Regions from separate parts of the Homo sapiens genome. Here region 1 is linked to region 2. Evidence: fine-mapped expression QTL. Tissue or cell type: whole blood. Region 2 holds a variant in brackets; the other region holds the start of a gene. All regions are shown on one strand. Distances are between the middles of the regions.

Region 1 (10,817 bases), 37 kb before region 2:
GGAGCTCCAAAAGCCACCCTGAACCACAGCATGACCATGGGAATCAAATCTGTGCAGAGCAGAGCCACAAAATAGATGGAACTTATATCCTGACACCGGGGAGCACCAAAGCTCTGCCTACCTCCACACTTGAACGTTTAAGAGAAAACCAATTGTATCTTGTTAAAGCCACTGCACTGTTAGGCTCTGTGCTTTTTTTCACCTGAACTAATCGTAAATCATACATCTGTTAAACACATCACTTTAGAACCTGTCATCTTCTGTCTCTTAATATCATCCACCAACTCTATTCACTCCATTTGGCCCCGGTTTTCCTTTTTCTTCCCTATTTTCCTGCTTTATTTTTGTCCTTTTTCCCTTAATTGAGCATTAGGCAAAACTCAAATATCCTGATGTATTATCTACTGAACACATTTTAAAAATTAACATTTATTAAAAAGAATATGAAATACACAAATGTAGAGGGAATGAAATACTGAATCTTCATGTACCCATCACTCCACCCCACCAATCATTAACCTATGATCAGCTTCTGCCCCACTCACACTATAGCCTCTTCCTCCCTCCTATATTATTTTGAATCAAATTTCAGACCTCATATTGTTATTGAATCAAGTTTCAGACTTCTTTATTTAAGAAGCAGGCAAGTCAATCTTTTTTACTTTTTCCTTACATAAAGACAAATTCCTAACTCATGACTTCTTTTGCCTCATAAAAATCAATCTTTTCTTTCCCTATTTCTCCTCCTTTTCCCCCTTCCCCTCTTCCTCCTACCTCTTTTTTTTTCTCTTTCTCTTTCCCTTCCTACCTTCTTCCCTCCTTCCACTATAATTTTTAAAAAGGAAATCCAAGTCTAATTTTCCCAGTTTTACCTGTGGTTCCTTGATATACATCTGTCTTTCCATTTTCAATCACTTTTGCTAAAATGGCAGAGTTTACTCATGGATAGTCCCTTTATGAGTTTGGAGAAAAGGATATTTAAGTCACACAATCCTCAGCCCTCTTTTAGATAATAAAAACTGGCTACACTAGTAATACAGTGGGAAAATATAATGAATAAGAAGAATCCATTTATAATAGTCACCAAAATTAAATATTGGATACTATTTTAACTAGAAAAACTCAAAAACCCCAATGATACCAGTGACTTGTTTTTATAACATTGAGAAGGCATTGAGCTTTTATATTGGTGGATTTGGGCCATATGGATGGGTTCCCATAAAGCAAGCTGGAACTGTCTTGATACCATTCATGCATAGAAATCAAGCATGGCAGAGTGCAGCCGATATTTTGGAGGGAGTGCAGATTACTTGGACATGATGGAGGCAGATCTTTCCACACAAGGGTATGATCACAGAGCCAGTGGCAAATTCTCATAGATTTTATTTGCTTTTATCATTATGAAAAATAAATTTACGATCTGTATACTGTAACAAAACAAAACAACTATGACTAGTTAACATCCCAGACTTTGTGTACTTTTGGAGGGCTACTGTGTTCCTGAGCATTTCCAAATTATTTCTCCCCTCGGAAATTGTGGGAGGTATATGCTACTCCTACTCTGTTACTTTAACCTACATCATAATATTGAACTTTACACCGCTAAGGAAATGTGATAATTCTTGTATGCTCAGCTTGGTGAAAGAATTTGTAATTGTTTCATATTGTGTTTACTTGTCTAGACCAAAGGCTGTAGTCACTGGAAACATGGACTTGTTTTCATCTCTAACTCTCCACCTCTCCACACTCAGCCTGCAGAGCCCGGCCAACAATCAGTGAGTGTCTAAGAACATTTTGTGAAATGAGTATGCGAATGCAGAAACTCTTTAGACAGAACCAGTAGCACAGGTTCTTGGAGTTCAGATTTATTTAGGAAGTTGGCATTTAAGCCCTCTTTTGGTTGTTTTGGTGGTTCATGAAAGTACTTTTACCTTTCTCAGTTTTGATTTGATATTTTTTCTTATCACACTCCACTCCAGTATTAGGATCCTCACCTTTTTTTGACATAACACTTAACTCTCCTAATACACTTGAAATTGTGCATTCTCATTTCTATGCTCACGTGAGTTTTGACTTAAGATTTCAAACTCAGAGTTGAGTAAGTCTACATACTACTCATGAGAAAGTGAGTAGAACTGTTTCCCCCCAAAATGAAAAGAACTATCTTCTGGGTTATTGGTTTTAACTGAAGGTGAAAGGTTTTAAACCTTTTCCCCTTATGGTCTTGGGGAAGCAACTATTTAGAAAATTTGCTTGTAAAAATAATACTTGTAAAAATAATAATTGTTCTAGCAAATCATACACCTTTGTGTGTGTAAGGGTGAGAAGGGAGAGAGAGAGATGGAGGTAGACAATGCTCTAACTGTAGACATTCATCCTACATTTAAATATTTTGAATTTTCAGTAGCCTGTGAATACGAGGAAACTTATTACATTAAGGTAGACTTTAGAGATTTGACATGTAGCTGATATTTTCACAGTGCAAGAAATATCAAGCTGACATTATGCAGTCTCTGAGATGATTATTTCCAAATGTCAGAGTGCAGAAACTTATTCATGGGACTTCAGTGCCTTAGGATAGTGTCAATTTAAAAGACATTCACATTGACTTCTTTTTTATTTAAACATGCTAAATGAGGTATGAAAAGCAGATTAAGAAATCAACTGAGAAAGGAAGAGCAAAGAAGAAACCTATTGACAAGAAAATTTTAAATCATAGATTGATGTACTCTTTAATCAATTTTCATGGACCTATTGCTGACAGCAGGCTTTAGCAACTGCCTCCTAATCCTTCCTACAGCTGTAATTTTGCTCTTCATGTTATTTCACTCATCTCACTTATAGTGAATTTGGAAAATTAAAAATAAGTAAAAACTATTTGAATATTTTATAGATTTTTTTTTGCTCTTGAGACGGAGTCTCGCTTGGTTGCCTAGGCTGGAGTGGTGCAAAGGTGCGATCTCGGCTCACTGCAACCTCCGCCTCCCGGGTTCAAGCGATTCTCCTGCCTCAGCCTCCTGAGTAGCTGGGATGATAGGTGCTTGCCACCACGCCCAGCTAAATTTTGTATTTTTAGTAGAGACAGCATTTCACCATGTTGGTCAGGCTGGTCCCGAACTCCTGACCTCAGGTGATCCACCCGCCTCGGCCTCCCAAAGTGCTGGGCTTACAGGCATGAGCCACTGCGCCCAGCCTATTTTATAGATTATTTTCAATAAATAAGTCAAAAACCAAATTGTTTGACTTTTCATAGTAACACTGGATTTCGAATTAAAATAACTTAGTAATATTTTAAATTAAAAACGTATTCTTTTGTTCAATCTCTTTAGCAGTTAATTATGAACCTACTGAACTGCTGGAACGTCTGTTATTTTGGAAATAAAGGAGTTTTTTTTTTCTTCAAGCCAATTGGCCATATCAGAGATAACTGCATTTAAATAAGCCTTCATCTTCCCAATTATGTGCTCCTAATTACTCGGGGTCACTGAAATCCCATGGCATCTTCTGAAAAGCATTTTCCCTGCAGTCCATCTTGTTAGGTTTCCTTTCTGTTCCGGGAAGCCAGTATCTTTTCCTTTATCAGATTCCTTTTTTACCAACAGCGGGAATGGTAATGGTGAATGGATGCAGGGTTTTAAAATCAGCCAACTTTGTTCTGACTTCCGTAGGTCAGTGACTGGAGTCACTGCCTAACAACCTAAATTCCCAGATTTATCTCATGAAATGTGATTTCTCATACAAACAAAAGTTGTGAGAACTCCATGAGCAAGACCAGCTGCTTGTGGGGACTGCCAAATTTTAAACTGTTATTTGAACAGCAAAAAGACCAGGCAAACATCCGAGAGACAGACCTAACTGCAGATAAGTCTTGTAATCTTGTTCACTATAGTCAAAACAGAATGGATTGCTTATTCTGTTACCCTATTGGTATTGCTCACATTTTAAAATTTAGGTGCTGGGCTCAAGAATGATAATTTTATTATTAAGCTTCAAGAGTCACATTGTATTGTATGCATTGAATATCACGAAATCGAAAACACTGAAAAGCTAGCGTTTACATTCTTGGATCATACCCCCAAAGGCCAAGGATTCCCACTGGCCGCTTGCAGCAGGGCTGTCTCCTGTGAAGGCAAGAGACAAACGAGGAGCGTTATGACACTTTGCTCCCAGGACTTTGGCGCACAGTTCCCATGAGTCCAGGTCCGTCCAGTCAACATCCTGAAGCCAGGACTGGCAGGTCCTGACCCTCCCTTTTTGCACCCGTAAGGGGAAGGGCCCGGGAATCTGGACCTTGTCTAGAGTCCCGGCGCCAGTACCAGTTCGGAGGGCATCCTGGAGGTTGTTACTAACCCGAGCCTCTTCCAGGCTTCCCAGGCACCAGGGTTGCTAACAGCTCCACGGGGGCGAATAATTTTGTTTATTTTGTTAACTGTGGTTATCTCCAACACTCAGTTCAGACCTGAGCCGGGCAAAGTCTCACCTTGTCTCCTGGTCACTTCCCTGCTTGTTTGTTTCTTCCTAACTCCCAAGTGTCTTTCGCCCAGTTCATCCCCACCTCAGCAGCCCAAGGCTCGGCGGGGACGGTCGGGGTTCGAAGCCTGCAGCTAAACTTAGAGGGTTCAGGCTTTGCTGGGAGGCCTCCCTGTGCTCAGAAGAGCCGGGGGTAAGCTGGGCGGTCGCCTTGGGTGCAGACAGAGGCGCAGGGCCTCGGCCTCCAAGAAAATTCCCAAACCGAGAGGCTGAGCTTCGCGTCTGTAGTTACTGAGCAGGAGCTTCTGGGCGGAACTTCTAAGGGCCCCGCCCGCCCCGTCTGCCCTGACCCTCGCCCGGACTCGCCTCGCCCACGTCCCGTTTCGCTTCGCCCCAGCTCCGTCTCGCCCCGCCCCCGTCCCGCCCGGTTGCGGAGGCGCGGGGCGCCCCCGGGTGGCCGCGGGCAGTGCTGCTCCTGGCCGGTGGAGGCGGCGGCTGCGGCAGCGGAAGGGGAAGCGCTGAGGCGGTGGGGCCCACAGCCATGGCGGAGCCTGTGCAGGAGGAGCTCTCGGTCCTGGCCGCGATTTTCTGCAGGCCCCACGAGTGGGAGGTGCTGAGCCGCTCAGGTGACTACCCGCGCGCGGGAGGGACAGGGCGCCCTCAGGGGCCACCCGCGTTCGCTTTGCGTCTCCTCCCCACCACGGAGCCTGGGCACCCCGCCTGGGCCCACGTATGGGGACCGGGTTAGTTGAATGATGGAATGACACGCCCGGAGGCCGGAGTGGTGTCGCAGCGGGCGGGAGTGTGAGGCGACCCCAGAAACACTAAGAGAGCGGCGCGGCCCACTGGGGCCTCTGCCGCCGGTCCCGCTCCCGGAGCCGGGGGCCCCTGCGTGCGCACCCCCAGGCCCTCCCCCAGCCTCCCACCCCTCAGATCTCACCCTATAAAGAAGCCTGTGCTGACGCCCCCTCGTTGTTCTGTGTCCTTCCTAAGCACTATGCCCTAGGCCCCCCCGAGAGCACTCCCCGGTTCTAACTCTACACGGGTATTTGTAGGTCTTAAGTTGCAGGAGGGCAGGGTCTGTTTGGTAATGACTCCAGGCACCTGGTAGGTAGTAGGTAAATGTTTGTTGACTGAACTTTTTCATTTATCCAGTGCTCAACCTCAACTTTATCTGCATTCTATTTCCAAGTTGATTGCTTTTCTGATACTTTTTTTTTTTTAGGTGGAGTCTCTCTTGTTGCCCTGGCTGGAGTGCAGTGGATCCATCTGGACTCACTGCAGCCTCCGCCTCCCGAGTAGCTGGGATCACAGGCGCGTGCCACCATGCCTGGCTGAATTTTATTTATTTTATTTTATTTATTTTTTATTTTTTAAGACGGAGTCTTGCTTTGTCGCCTAGGCTGGAGTGCAGTGGCGCGATCTCGGGTCACTGCAACCTCCGCCTCCCGGGTTCACGCCATTCTCCTGCCTCAGCCTCCCGAGTAGCTGGGACTACAGGCGCCCACCACCACGCCCGGCTAATTTTTTGTATTTTTTTTTTTAGTAGAGACAGGGTTTCACCGTGTTAGCCAGGATGGTCTCGATCTCCGGACCTCGTGGTCCGCCCGCCTCGGCCTCCGAAAGTGCTGGGATTACAGGCGTGAGCCACTGCGCCCGGCCTTTTTTTTTTTTTTTTTTTTTTTTTGAGACAGAGTCTTGTTCTGTCCCCCAGGCTGGAGTGCAGTGGCGCGATCTCGGCTCACTGCAAGCTCCACCTCCTGGGTTCACACCATTCTCCTGCCTCAGCCTCCCGAGTAGCTGGCACTACAGGCGCCTGCCACCATGACTGGCTAATTTTTTGTATTTTTAGTAGAGACGGGGTTTCACCATGTTGGCCAGGCTGGTCTCAATCTCCTGACCTCGTGATCCGCGCGTCTCGGCCTCCCAAGGTGCTGGGATTACAGGCGTGAGCCACAGGTGCCTGGCCTTCTGATACTTTTTTTTAAACAAGCTCTTGAGGGCTTTATTAGTCATTTAGCCCACATTTATTGAATCCCTGCTGCCTACAGACTTTGTCAGGGTTTCAGAGACACCGCTACCCATGGCCTCTAGGAGCTTACAGTGTAGAGAGGTTCTTTTGACTATTTTTTGATGATAGGTGAAACTTACTGTCCCTGTATGTGGCTTCTATTGAATAAAAAAAAAAGAAAAAACACTGCCATGTATGAGAAAGTGACTCAGTTTTCACTTAGCTTTCAGATACATTATGTACATGTTTGGGGCATGAGATTTATCGTTCTAATGTTATATTGTAGCTACCATTAAAATTGGCTTTCTGACCATAAATTGGTTAACCTTTAAGAAGGTAGTCTAGGCCTGGCGCGTGGCTCATGCCTGTAATCCCAGCACTTTGGGAGGCCGAGGCGGGCAGATCACCTGAGGTCAGGAGTTCAAGACCAGCCTGGCCAACATGGCGAAACCCCATCTCTACTAAAAATACAAAAATTAGCTGGGCATGGTGGCACACGCCTGTGATCCTTGCTACTCGGGAGGCTGAGGCAGGAGAATCACTTGAACCCGGGAGGCGGAGGTTGCAGTGAGCCAAGATCTCACCATTCATTGCACTGCAGCCTGGGTAACAAGAGTGAAACTCTGTCTCAGAAAAAAAAAAAAAAAGTAGTCTAAAAATGGGCTGGATGTTGTGAGAAAACCATTTAAGATTAAGATCCTTCATGATATCCATTGGGTGTGTTATTCACTGAAGGACAGGGAGTTGACTTCCATTTATTCCTTCTTGCATTCATCCACTCACATCCACTCATTGGGCACTGTTATGTTCCAGGCACTATGCACCTATTAGTGTAATGGAGTTGCTTTCTTTTTAGTGCCCAGCCTGACTTGTATCTTTTGAAACAATTGTTTAAAATCCATATGAAGGGGTTTACTCACTTTTAGTGTTTTCTTGTCATCCCTCTTCTGATTGGATAATTCTTCACCATCTCCCTCTCTGTCTCCACTGTTCTCTTTATTGATAATTACTTCTGCCTGAGGCAGCTATTTGAAGAGATCATCAGTTTTCCTAAATTCCTTTATTATGGCTCAGTTGGGAATATCCTGGAAAAATGAACCTGCAATTTCCCATCACACCTTAAAGAACTGGTAATGGTCTGGGTCATTAGTACACAGCTGAGCATAAAACACTGCTGAAGGGTCAGAGAAAACCCAAAAATGTAAGCATAGAAAGAAAACAGTTTCTTAATCTTGAGAACACTGTGAACCCTTTATCTGCTGTTAAATTGAGCATGACTTTCAAGCCATGCCTCCTAATTAGTTTAATTCCATGTTCTGGCATCAATAAGTAATTGAATTATAAAAGAATTCAGTGTAACAACTTAGGACATTTTGTTGCTGAGAGGTAGAATAATTCAGTGATTGAAATGGGGATGTTTGATGTTCACAAGTGGGAATTAAGGGGGTAAGGTAAAGGCCTTTTTTTTTTTTCCCATGATTTTCGTAACATCTTTTTACAAAGTAAGGACTTCTTTAACAGACCACAGTAAACATGCAGCAGACTGCTGGCTACCACTCACCATCACTGTCAGTTTGGGTTGGAGGATACACACTTGATACCAGAACACTCTAAACACTAGTTCTTTTCTGGCCTCCCCCAAATAAGGTTCTCCCTTTTGCCACTGGAATCAGGAGAATGTTGCAGAGGAATTGCATTCCTGGTAACAAGATAACCCAGCAAGACTCAGACTGCTAACCCAAGGATCAACTATTAAGGCCGTAAGATTGAAGAAGCTAAATAATTGGATTCCATTTAGCTGGACTAATTTTATGCTGAGAATTTCAGGGGATTTTATCTGCCTTTTGATCTCTTTACAATGGTTATAGTAAGCTTCTAGTAAGAGGCATAACCATCTCTTAGGGGTGCAAATTAAGTAAGTCCCTACACTCCCATCTACAAGGGAGGGCTGTGGATAGACCACATTAGGGATATTCTGTTTTTCTGTATGCATTGTAGTCAGTCCAGGTGCCAGATTTGATGGGGTGACCTGCCATGTACGTGATACTTGAAATGCATCTTACTTGATGAGGGGTACTATTGGTCTTACTTCACAGAGAAGATAACTGATACTCAGACTGGTTAAATAACCACCAGGCTCCAGGTGTATGGGCCTTTGCACTGCATCATGCTCCTTAATAGAGAGATGGGGCTGTTGCATCAGGAAAATAGTTCTTGGAAAGCAAGGAAATACTTGTGCAGAAAGAGCGATAATGAGCACCCAGAGAAAAGATATGAGTGTGAGCCAACTTATGTTCAGAACAATCCCAAAGGGGAGTGTTTGTGCATGTATGTGTGGATCTATGAGAGGCGTGAGATTGGTATTGTATCACCATTTTCCTGATGAGGAAATTGAGTGACACAGATTATGTGGCCATAGTCAATGTTCGTTATATGTGGGAGTTGTGCTTCTGGAAAGAATCTTACAGATAAAAAAGTTGTAAGATGGGAGAACCCAATATCATGTAATAGGTTTTCACAGAAGCTGCAGAGTGAATTTTTGTATTTTAGCAACACTAATGTTCAAATTAGTTTGGGCCTTCTTATAAAATGAATCATGACTGTCACACATTGACCCCTCTAAATCTGCTCAGCTCGGTTTTATGCTGATTGTCAGTATTGAGCTGACTTCTATAAAACCGATGAGATTGCTACTTTTAGCTTCATTTATTTTTAGTTTTTTTTTTTTTCTTCTGAAGCTACATTGAAACTTATGTAAAAATCCAACTGAAGCATAAAACAAGCACTGGTGTATGCTTGCCTGGGAGCTGCCTGGGAGCAAGAGGAGACAGTCTTGTCTTACCAAGTATGAGAGGGTGCTGAAGGTTTCTTGGTGGTTTTCTTCAAAGTTGTATCTTGAGGATATATAACAATTGCAAAGAAAAAAAACACAAGTGTAGGGAAGGTCAGATGTATATGGTATGTAAACAATTTCTTAATGGGCTCTTAGTGAATCCTGAAAAACCCATTCTCTTAAATTTTACCTTTTTTTAAAAATGTCTTCTGTTATTTGACTGCATTTATAGAGTTTCTGTTGTGTGTTGTATTTTATTAAGTAGAATGAAACCTTAAAAATAGCATTAGTGTGAATTTGGAGTTCTAAAAGTTTAAGTTTCTCTAGTTTGAATTTCTGTTTGGAATGTGTTTAGGAGCTTACTTTCTGATGTTTGTAAGGAAGCATAAGGTTTGAAACCTGTTTCAGTTTGTGTTTTAGGTATGAAAATGATACACTTACTATAAGACAGAATGATTTGGTTAGAAACAACAAGTAGTCAATTTGTATCAACTTGAACAAGAGGGCAAGACCCTTTTGGTAGGGTCTTTAGAATACATGAAAACACCCTTGGACTTATGGAGATTTTAGTTTTCTGGGGCAAGCCTTAAGTTTTCTAGGGCATAGATGTTTGTTGAGAATGATCAGTTTGTGAATTAAGCTTATTAACTAAGGTTCTGGGGGGCTAAGGAGGGGCAGAGATTAGTATTAGATTTAGAGCATAATTATTTTTCTGCTAATCACTGTTTCTAAGCTGTTAATAACCTTAAAGCAGATAGGGGCAACTTTGTTTTCTTTTTTATTATGGCAAAAAAAGAAAACAAAAAATCAGACTTACAGTGCATGTGTCATATGAAAAATTCTGAGGCAGAAAGGAGCCAGTTTAATTGCTTGTACAATGTCAAGCAGATGAGATATGGAAGAGTACAATACATACTTCTAGAGTTTTTGGGAGAAAATGAGTTTTTAAAAGTATGTAATTTTATTGCCACATTAAATACCAGAAGAATGGAGTATGTTATTGGGCTTTTCAGTTTCTTGTAGAGATGACAGTATCATTTTGTATAATCTTATTTTGCAGCTACAGTGTATGTGTGGGTGGGCAGGGGGATTTACCAAGACCAATTAGGAAGAATGCTAATCCTTTCCAATTCTTAAAAGAACTAAGGCAGTTTTCTTCCGAACATATAACTAGTATGACGGTCACAGTTTTCTAAGGTGAAAGTCAGGAGTTTCACCCATTGCTATTCTGTTTGCTGACTAGGACCAGAAAATAACACAGAGAAAAATGAAAATTGGTAAGGACTGACATGGCTGGCTCAGTAGCTTTTCAAGACTTTCCCCCTGGACTACCAACATGTTTCTTTCCTGTGGTTCCCTGCACCAGAGAGGACCCGGTAGGTGTTTATATGGCACAGGTTGGAGAACACTGTGGGTCTCAGGGTTTTGATCAGAAAAGGATTCTTCAAAGTTTGCAGCATAGCATCTTGCTTCAGTGCGGATACATTGCCTTCTTTTGTAGTA
Region 2 (10,817 bases):
AAATATCTGCTCCATTCTGTTCTGGCACTTTAGAGAGGTGAGATGATTTTCTTCATTCTTTTTTTTTTTTTTGGGACAGAGTCTCCCTCTGTCACCCAGGCTGGAGTGCTGTGGTGTGATCTTGGCTCACTGCAACCTCCACCTTCTAGGTTCAAGTGATTCTCATGCCTCAGCCTCTGGAGTAGCTGGAACTAAAAGCATGCGCCACCACGCCCAGCTAATTTTGTATTTTTAGTAGAGACGGAGTTTCACCATGTTGGTCAGGATGGTCTTGAACTCCTGACCTTAAGTGATCCACCTGCCTCAGCCTCCCAAAGTGCTGGGATTACAGGCATGAGCCACTGCTCCAGGCCAATTTCCTTTATTCTTGAATTGTAAAATTATCCTTACACTTATACTCACAGTGAATTCATAGAGTTTCTTCACAAATAAAAGCTATTTTCTTAACATTGCGATTATTTATGTATGAATACAACTTATAGTACCTGGTGCCTGAAACTTGCTATACTTCTTGTTTCATACATATTAGGAGTTTCAAATAACCAGATGATTTTTTGTTAGGGAGTAAGCATTCCATGTGTCACAAAATCTTATATTTACTTTAAAAAATCTAAATATTTTGCTGTCAGATAAATGAGCATATAATAAAAATCTCCTTTGGAGCTACATTTATGCATTTCATTTTATATAGACAAATAGAATTTGAAACCTGGAAAGAAGCTTAGCGATTTCTGGTTCAACTTTCCAACCAGTGCAGTAATTGTTAAAAATTGTAACTGTGATAGCCATCCACTTCCTGCTTGAAAAACTCCAGAGATTAGTATCACCCTCATGAAGCAGCTGTTGTTACTGGACAGCACAGTAGACAAAAAGTTATTTCTTGCATTCAATCAAAATCTACATTTCTTAACCTATGGCTTTTTATTCTAGTTCTGGCCTCTGGAGCAACACAGAATTAGTATACTCTTCTCTGTATGACAGCTCTTCAAATATTTGAAAGTAGTTATTATGCCTTTTCTTATTCTTCACCTCCCAAGTTGCTTGAATAATTTATCAAAAATTATAGCTTCTCCCACTCACCTGGACATTTGCCTTTCATTACATTCTAATTAGTCAATGTCCCTCTTAAAATGCGGCATCCAGAATTGAATTCTATGTTATAGACATGGTTTAACTAGCCAGAAATACAGTATAACAGTCACAGATAGTGATCTGTGGGTAGCAATTTCTCAAGGGAGCCTCATCCTTGAGATAGACTAAGACTCTTAAAAGAAAGGGACTTGTAGGAAAACACTTGGTAAATTGTAGAGTGCTTTATAAATGAAATAATTTGTTATGTCCCACTTAAGACTTTAAAATACAACAAATAATCAAAGAATGTAATTTTTTTACACATTCTTTATAGCATTTTACACAGGGCTGATTTCAACCGTTGTCTGCATAGGGCTAGTTTTTTTTTTTTTTTTCCCTGTGGAAAAGTAGAAAAACACTTTAAATCTCAGCCGTTATTCTGGGTTACTGGGCCCTTTCTTGAGTTGAACAAATTTTATAGTCTTTTTTAGGACATGATTTTTTGAAACAAATGATAAATGTCATTTTTTTTACCTGTACATACTTATTTAATGAGGTAATAGCAGAATCTTCTATTGACAAGACCTTTTAATAAGTAGAACCACTTTTACATTTGAAGTAGTTTTAAATATGTAACCTATATTGCTTCAATTTTAAAGTAAATTTAAACTTCTCTGATTTTAGCTAATTTAGAGTGGAATGGGAATCTTACCTGAATATGGTTTAATATTGTCATCTAACCATTCATTCATTCTCAATTGCTTACTTAGTATTGATTACATGTTAAGGACTTGAAAAAATTAATAAATTGGTGTTTTTTCTTTCATTATTAACTCTAGAAAAGTTTTTTAAAAGAATAACTTTTTTCTAAGGTGTTTGGCATATATTTGTACACGAACATTCTGATTAAGGATTCTAACATTCTAACAGCAGGTTATAGTTGGCAAATACAAATGTGAATATGAATGTGCATAAATAAAATTGTGAAATATAAATATGTGGCCCCAATGGGATAATCATAATGATGAGCACCCAGCACACTCCCTGGCACATAGTAGATTCTTAACTACTTAATATTCATATTTGCCATATGAATATTACATGTTAGGGGAATATTATTCCTAGTCTTGGCAGTGAACCTGTAATTACAATGGGAGATTGAGTCCTATAGATTTCTGTGCCATTGTTCAAATGAGTGAGACACTTTGGGACTGCACTATATTTTAAGACCTCATATCTCTTTTGGAGGAACATTATTTCTTGGTTGAAAGAAATTACTGTATTTTCTCAAACATGACAATATTGTGGTGGTTGTAGTTTGATTTGTAATGTGTCAAACTCTAAAAAGCATAAATTGTTTAAAAATACATAAATACTCAGAATAAAATCAGTCATTTAGTACTAGCTACATTGGAAAGAAATTTAAGAAAAACCTAGTAAATCACTTTTAAGGATATAGTATTCTAAAATTTATTTAGAAATATAAGAGAAAATTAGAATTCTGGAGAATCATCCATTTTTTTGCACACTTTTAAAAAAATCGTGCAATTTAAATTTTTTTTCCTGTTACAAATCTTGGCAACTAGAGCAATGTAAATTAGAGGGTAATTGCTTTGTAAAATTAGATTTGAAGTCATGTAATTTAAATTTATACTAGTAGGTCCAGAATTTCCCTTTCTATTAAATTTACTTTCCTTTTAATAGTTTAAAAAATTATTATTCAAGTAAGTAAACATTTCCAGAGAAAGACTGTGTTTTCTTTTTAGAGTTTGTGAACTTAAATCTTCTTAAGCTAGGTATTATTTGGCTAATCATACAATTTATACTCATAATAGGCTGAAGAGCTATAAATATTCTAATAGCTTCTAGTGGTTATTGTTTTTGGCAATATGATGTGTGGGCTTTTATATCAATATTAGTTAGTGTTTTTTAAACTTCATAGTATTTTCCTCCAGCAAAGAACTGGCTCTTTTCTGAGTAAGAAGAAAATTTTCGCTTAAAATGAGGCCATTTTGCATATTAATTAGGAGGTCTTTGAACTCTAAGAATAAAATCCATTAATGCTTTGGGTATGGAACAATTATGCATTCAAGGACTTTAATTTTATGCTAATAATGTGACAAGCTTTACATTTCTTTGTTTTGTTTGCATTTTCTAAAGATAATTTAATGCAAATAATCCATCCATATACTGCATAGAGCGAGTCGGATGGTTTCCCTGTAGTTAAGATTGTATCAGCTCTCCTATTATAAATCTCTATTACCCATGGTTTATAATTTAATTGAAAAAACTCACTGCAGGCAGAAATTCAACACTTAGAGTTTCAGGCTAAAAGCAATATTTCTCTTTTTAAAAATTGCCCCCTCTATTTAATTTCATAGTTAATGGAAATATAAGAAGGATGATCCTGGAGCTGATTTTCAACAAAGCCAAACAGATCATTGTCTATAACTAAAATAATTTCTAAATAACAGTAGTTGATATCTTATCAGTGGTCTAATACTACAATATTTAACTAAATAAGAAAAGACAACAGTGAATTCTGTTTATCCTTTTCCTATATGAAAAATACACACAAGGAGAACAAGAAACTTCTGTAAGATCAGACATGTGTAAAATGTATAATTGACAATATTGTCTGAGGTGTTATGTTTTTGTTTGATTTCAAAGTGCATACTTTACTCCTTTTAGTTGATCTAGACTAATGCTATGGAATCTGCTTTTTGTTGAACCAATATAGGAACAGGGCATAGGGCAGGAAGATGCACGCTCTGAAATTCTTCACTTTATCTGTCTTCATCTTAAGTTTATACTTCAATTACCTTGATGGGATTCAGGGGTTAATTAACAGGCATAGCAACTTCAGCAGCCTTACCAAGTAAAACTGAGAAGAGTTTTTAGACCCATGATGGTTTTGTCATCAGCTTTTGAACTCAAATCCTGTAGTATGGAAAGGTTAACCTGCCAGGTAGTATGCAATCTCCAATCAAGAGTAGTGGTTTTATCAAGCCCAATGAGACAAAGAAAATATTAGTGAGTTAGAGCAATATGTACTCTATTTCCCTCAACCCATGAACATTTTCCTATTTAATTCTTACTTGTAACGCTGCATGTGACATATATGCTATAATTTTTTAACTGTAGGTATTATTGGAAACTTGCTGAAAAATGATCTGGCTCTATATATGCAATGTATTGTGTTTCTAAATCAGTTTCCTTTGAGCCTCTAAGGAAAATTATTGAGGACAATAATACAAACTTACATCTCTTATAACACTTCACCATCTACAGAGGGCTTTAATACACATATGCACAAGTGCTTAGATAATAGAGAAAGCAGAAGCTAAAAGATTAAGTGACTTGCTCAAGATGATGAAGCTAACAAGTGGTGCTTAGTGCTAACATTCTGTCTTCAAGCTAATACACCTTTTCCTGTAGCCCAGTGGCTCACTCCTTAGTTCTTTTGGGGGACCTCATATTTTTAACTTTGAGAAATAGAGTCAGTGATACCATCTTAGTTTGTTCCTAATGTTATAATAAAATATCTTAACTAGGAAATTTATAAGTAATAGAAGTTTATTTCTTACAGTTTTGGAGGCTGGGAATCCCAAGATTAAGGGGCTGGCATATTTGGTGCCTGGTGAGGGCTTGCTTTCTGTTTCACAGATGGTGCTTTGTTGATGCATTTTCTAGAAGGGACAAATGCGGTATCCTCACATGGTAGAAGGAATTGAAAAAAAAAAGGCAGCTCTCTGAAGCCTCTTTTATAATAGTATTAATACCATTAATAAGGGCAAAACCTTTAATCAGTCCCCAAAAGACCCCACCTGTTAGACTACACAATGGAGATTAAGTTTCAACATGAATTTGGGAGAGACACAAACATTCAGTACATAGCAGACATCATGAGGAGAATGCCTTGTATTTACTTGAAGTGTGTCAGAAACTATAAGGGAATTTATAAAGTTTCTAGTCAAAATCTTAAAATATTCCATATTATCTTAGATTCATAAATAAATAACTTAAAGCTTAGATAAAATTTATGTACATCTTAAGCATAACCTTGAATGTAAATGGATTAAATTTCTTATTTAAAATATATAGATTGGCTAAATGGATTAAAAAAAAACCCCTAAGACCCAACTATATGCTGCCTACAAAAAACTCATCTCACCAGCAAAAACACACATACACCAAAAGAGAAGGGATGGAAAAAGATACACCATGCAATTAGAAACCAAAAATGAGCAGGAATAGCTATATATATATCAGACAAAACAGACTCCAAGTCAAAAGCTATACAGTCAAAGATGGACATTATATGATAATAAACTGATTAATTCAGCAAGAGAATATTACAACTGTAAATGTATATGCACAAAACATCAGAGCACTCAGATATATAAAGCAAATATTATTAGATCCAAAGAAAGAGACAGACTGAAATACAATAATAGCTGGGGACTTCAACACCCCACTCTCAGCATTGGACAGATCATCTAGACAGAAAATCAACAAAGAAACTTTGGATTTAAATCATGCCACAGACCAAATAGACCTAACAGACATTTATAGAACATTTCACCCAACTGATGCAGAATATACATTTTTTTCATCAGCATGTGGGACATTCTCCAGGACTGACCATATGTTAGGACA[T/C]AAAGCAAGTCTCAAAAATTTTTTAAGAATTGAAATCACGTCAAGTATCTTATTTGAACCATGACAGAATAATACTAGACATCAGTAATAGGAAGAACTTTTGAAAATATACAAATACATGACAATTAATCAACATACTCTTGAATAACCAATGAGTGAAGAAAGAAATTAAGAATAAAATCTACAAAATTTCTTGAAACAAATAAAAATAGAAATATAACATACCAAAACATTTGAGACACAGCAAAAGCAGTATTTAAAAAAATTATTAACTTTGTACAAGTTTAGAAAAGCAGTATTAAGAGGCAAGTTTATAGTAATAAATGCCTACATAAAAACTAGATATATTTAAAACACCGTAAAGATGCATCTGAAGGAACTAGAAAAGCAAAAATAAACTAAACCCAAAATTAGTAGATGGAAAGAAATAATAAAGATTAGAGCACAAATAAAGGAAATTGAGACTAAAAATACACACAAAAAATCAACGAATAAAAATACTTCTTTGAAAATGATAAAAAATTGACAGACTAAGAAAAACAAGAGAGAAGACCCAAACAAATAAAATCATAGATGAAAAAGGAGACATCACAATGAATACCACATAAGTAAAAAATCACTAGAGAGTACTATGAACAACTATATGCCAATAAATTTGAAAACACAAAGAAAATAAATAAATTACTGGACACAGACAACCTAAAAAGATTGAATCAAGATATAGAAAACCTGAACAGACTAAAAACATATAACAAGAGTGAATCAATAATAAAAAGTCTCCTAACAAAGAAAAGTTCAGGACTGAATGGCTTCACTACTATATTCTATCAAACCTTTAAAGAAAAAGGAATAACAATTCTTTCAAACTATTCAAAAAAATTAAAGCAAAGGGAATTCTTTTTGATAACTCATTCTGTGAGGCCAGCATAACCCTGATGCAAAAGTCATATATGGACATAACAGAGAGAGAGAGAGAGAGAGAGAGAGAAAGAGAGAGAGAGAGAGAGACAGAGAGAGAACTACAGGCTAATAACATCCCTGATGAATACAGATGCAATAATTCTCAAGAAAATACTAGCAAAGCAAATCCAACAACACATCAAGAAGATAACACACTATGATCAAGTGGAATTTATTCCAGGAATGCAAGGATAGTGCAACACAGGCAAATCAACAAAATGTCATGGATCACAACAGTAGAATGAAGGTCAAAAGACCATATAATTATATAATTGTCTTAAGTGTTGAAGAAAAAGCATTTGAGAAAATTAAACCTCCCTTCATGATTAAAACTCTCAGTAAATTAAGTATAAAGTACCTCAACATAATAAATGCCATGTATGAGAAACCTGCAGCTAACATCTTACTGAATGAAAAAAAGCTGAAAGCTTTTTCTCTAAGAACTGGAATAAGACAAAGATACCTGCTCTACCATTCTTATTCAATATAGTACTGCAGTTCTACCTTGAGCAATTAGGCAAGAGAAAGAAATAAAGGGCATCCAGTTTGGAAAAGAGGAAGTCAAATTGTCCCTATTTGCAGATGATGTGATCTTATATATAGAAAAACCTAAAGATTCTACCATGCAAATTTTGAACTAATAAACAAATTCAGTAAAGTTGCCAGATACAAAATCAACATACAAAAATTAGTAACATTTCTATATGCCAAGAGTGAAAAATCTGAAAAAGAAACCAAGAAATTAATCCTATTTACAGTAGCTACAAATGAAATAAAATTCTTAGGAATAAATTTAACCAAGGAGGTGAAAGACGTCTACAAGGAAAACTACAAAACATGGGTGAAAGAAATTGAAGAGGGTATAAACAAATGGAAGACATCCTATAATCACGTATCAGAAGAATTAAAAATATTGTTAAAAAGACCATACCAATCAAAGCAATCTGCAGATTCAATGCAATCCCTATCAAAATACCAATGACATTCTTCACAGACATAGAAAAATAAAACCTAAAATGTGTGCAGAACCACACACACAAAAAAAATCCCAAAGAGCCAAAACAATCCTAAGCAAAAAAAACGAAGCTAAAGACATCACATTACCAGGCTTTGAAATATAATACAATGCTGTAGTAACAAAAACAGCATGGTACTGGCACAATAACAGACACATAGACCAATGGAACAAAATAGAGAACCCATAAACTAATCCACGTATTTACAGTCAACTGATTTTTGACAAAGATGCCAAGAACACTTATTGTGGAAAGAGCAATCTCCTTAATAAATGATGCTAGGGAAACTGGATATCCATATACAGAAGAAGGAAACTAGACCCCTGCCTCTCATTCTATACAAAAATCAACTGTAAAAGGGGCAAAGATCTAAATGTAAGACCCAAAACTATAAAATTACTAGAAGAAAACATAGGGGAAACACTTCAGGACATTGGCTTGGGAACAGACTTATTATGAATGAGACCTCAAAAGCACAGAGAGCAAAAGCAAAAATAAGCAAATGGGATTATGTCAAATCAAAAAACTTTTGCACAGCAAAGGAAACAACCAATAGAGTGAAAAGACAACCTACAGAATGGGAGAAAATATTTGCAAACTGTTCATCTGACAGGAGATTTATATCCAGAATATACAAGGAACTCAAACATCTCAATAGCAAAAAGGCAAAAAAAATCTGATTAAAAAGTGGGCAAAGGATCTGAACAGACATTTCTCAAAAGAAGAAATACGAACAGACAACAAAGGTATAAAAGGATGCTCAACATCACTAATAATCAGAGACATGCAAATAAAAAACAACAGTAAGATATCTCACCATGGTTTGGATGTCTATTATCAAAAAAACAAAAATTAAATGCTGGTGAGGATACAGAGAAAGGGAACTCTTACACACTGTTGGTGGGAATGTAAACTAGGGAAGCTACTATGGAGAACAGTATGGGGGTTCCTCAAAAAAACACAAACAGAAGTACCATATGATCCAGCAATCCTGCTACTGGGCATTTATTCAAAGGAAAGGAAATCAGTATATTGAAGAGACATCTGCACCCCCATGTTTATTGCAGCACTATTTATAATAGCCAAGATATGGAATCAACCTAGGTGTCCATGAATGGGTAAAGAAAATGTGGTATATATACACAATGAAATACTATTCAGCCATAAAAAAATAAAATCCTGTCATTCATGGAAACATGGATGGAACTGGAGGACATTTTGTTAAGTGAAATAAGCCAGAAACAGAACATTCAACACTGCATGCCTTCACACATATGTAGAAGATTAAAAAAAAAGTAGATCTCATAGAAGTAAAAAGTAGAATGAAAGATACTAGTGGTTTGGAAGGGGAGGGGAAAGGGAGGAATAGGGAGAGATGTATTAAAGGATTCAAAATTATAGCTAGATAGGAGGAATAAGTTCTAGTATTCTATACCACTGTAGAATAACTATTATTAATAATAATGTATAGTTTCAAATAGCTAGAAGGAGAATATTGAATGTTCCCAACACAAAGAAATAATAAATGTTTGAGATGATAGATACACTAATTACCCTAAATCGATCACTCTAATTGTATGTATCAAAACATCACTATGTACCCCATAAATATGTTATGTGTCAATTAAAACCTACTAAAATCCATATTCATCTAAGCTACACAATAAATCGGTAATAAAATAAAAGGAAGTCATGAATTTACTAGTCTGTCTGATGAAAAATTGTTCTTAATGTTTTGATTATATCAAAAACATTGCTTAGGTATTAAGGTTATAAGAAAAGATTGTGTGAACACATTTGATTGTTCAGTCTTAAAGAGATTTTTGAGACAATAGTAGATAATTTCCAAGGATGTTTTAAGGTAGTAATGGTATAATAAAACAGGGGATACATTAAAAAAACCTCTAGGATTGCTTTGAATCTGGAAGTTCATATTTTTTGTGTGTAGTGAAAAAGCAGACTATTTCTAAAATTTACAAACCAATTCAAATTTCTTTTTTCCATTATAAGAATTTGCATAAGCCATTACTTCTATCTCTTTTATTTGTTGCTTTTGAATTGAATAAATTTAGAATGTAAGGTAGGGTTTACTTTTAAACTTTCTTTTCTTAGAAAAGTTTTCCTGACTCATTAGTTTTGTGAATGTTGTGTAATACTGAGTTCAGGTATTCAACTTGATAACATTTCATGTAACTGAATGGTCAGTCCATATGTCATGTAAGAACCAATAACCCTGTTTCCTTCTACCTTGTCCTGAGCAGACATTATCATCTAAGTCTCTTCATTCTTACAAGTTGAATTTGCTCAACCCTTTTATCTTTTTTGCACTGAAATACTCTTGCTAGTGCCCCCAGAGATCTCTCAATGGTAGCATCTGATGTATGATTTTTAGGCAGTACCTGGAGAGACAGTGAGATGTATTTGAAAGATGATGTGTTTTTTATTTAGACCAGGTGTTGGCAAACTTTCTGCAAAAGACCAGGTAGTAAATATTTTAGTTACTGTGGTCCACATGATCTCTGTCACAACTACTTCACTCTGCGACTGCAGTATTAAAGCAGGTATAAAAAAATATTTAAACAACTAAGCATGACTGTGTTCCAATAAATGCTATTTATGAACACTGAAACTTGAATTTCATATAATTTTCATGTGTCACAAAGTATTTTTTTTTTAGTTTTTTCAACAACTAAAAAATGTAACAGTCAGCTGGGCGCCCGGTGGCCCACGCCTGTAATTCCAGCACTTCGGGAGGCCGAGGCGGGTGGATCACTAGAGGTCAGGGGTTGGAGACCAGCCTGGCCAACATGGTGAAATCCCATCTCCACTAAAAGAACAAAAATTAGCCAGGTGTGGTGGTGGGCGCCTGTAATCACAGCTACTTGGGAGGCTGAGGCAGGAGACTCACTTGAACCTGGGGGCAGAAGTTGCAGTGAGCTGAGATCACACCACTGCACTTCAGCCTGGGTGACAGAGTGAAATGCTGTCTCAAAAAAAAAAAAAAAAAAAAAAGGTAAAAGTCATTCTTAGCTCACAGGCTGTGGAAAAATGGTGAGTGGCATTTGGCATATGGGTTGTAGTTTGCAGATCCCTCCTTGCTTTAGACAGACC

The links. PIP is the estimated chance that this variant, and not a neighbour inherited with it, causes the effect.
Region 1: it holds the start of RWDD3, and the variant in region 2 is fine-mapped to the expression of RWDD3 in whole blood (TOPMed, PIP above 0.99). The same link has a PIP of 0.9 or more in blood mononuclear cells, lung and monocytes.

Annotation. Positions count from the first base shown.
Region 1 is chr1:95,229,220-95,240,036 of GRCh38, forward strand. RWDD3 (RWD domain containing 3) reads left to right here and starts at 4,991. Exons shown (of 4, transcript NM_015485.5): 1 at 4,991-5,096. The coding sequence starts at 5,012. It overlaps TLCD4-RWDD3 (TLCD4-RWDD3 readthrough), which reads left to right. Exons shown (of 8, transcript NM_001199691.1): 7 at 1,683-1,775. RWDD3-DT (RWDD3 divergent transcript) reads right to left here and starts at 4,763. Exons shown (of 4, transcript NR_125949.1): 1 at 4,481-4,763. RefSeq lists silencers at 4,732-5,061, 5,272-5,451.
Region 2 is chr1:95,266,175-95,276,991 of GRCh38, forward strand. No RefSeq gene overlaps it. Among named protein-coding and RNA genes, the nearest start is that of RWDD3, 37 kb to the left of the region's middle. The variant T/C (reference allele first, on the strand shown) is at 5,731.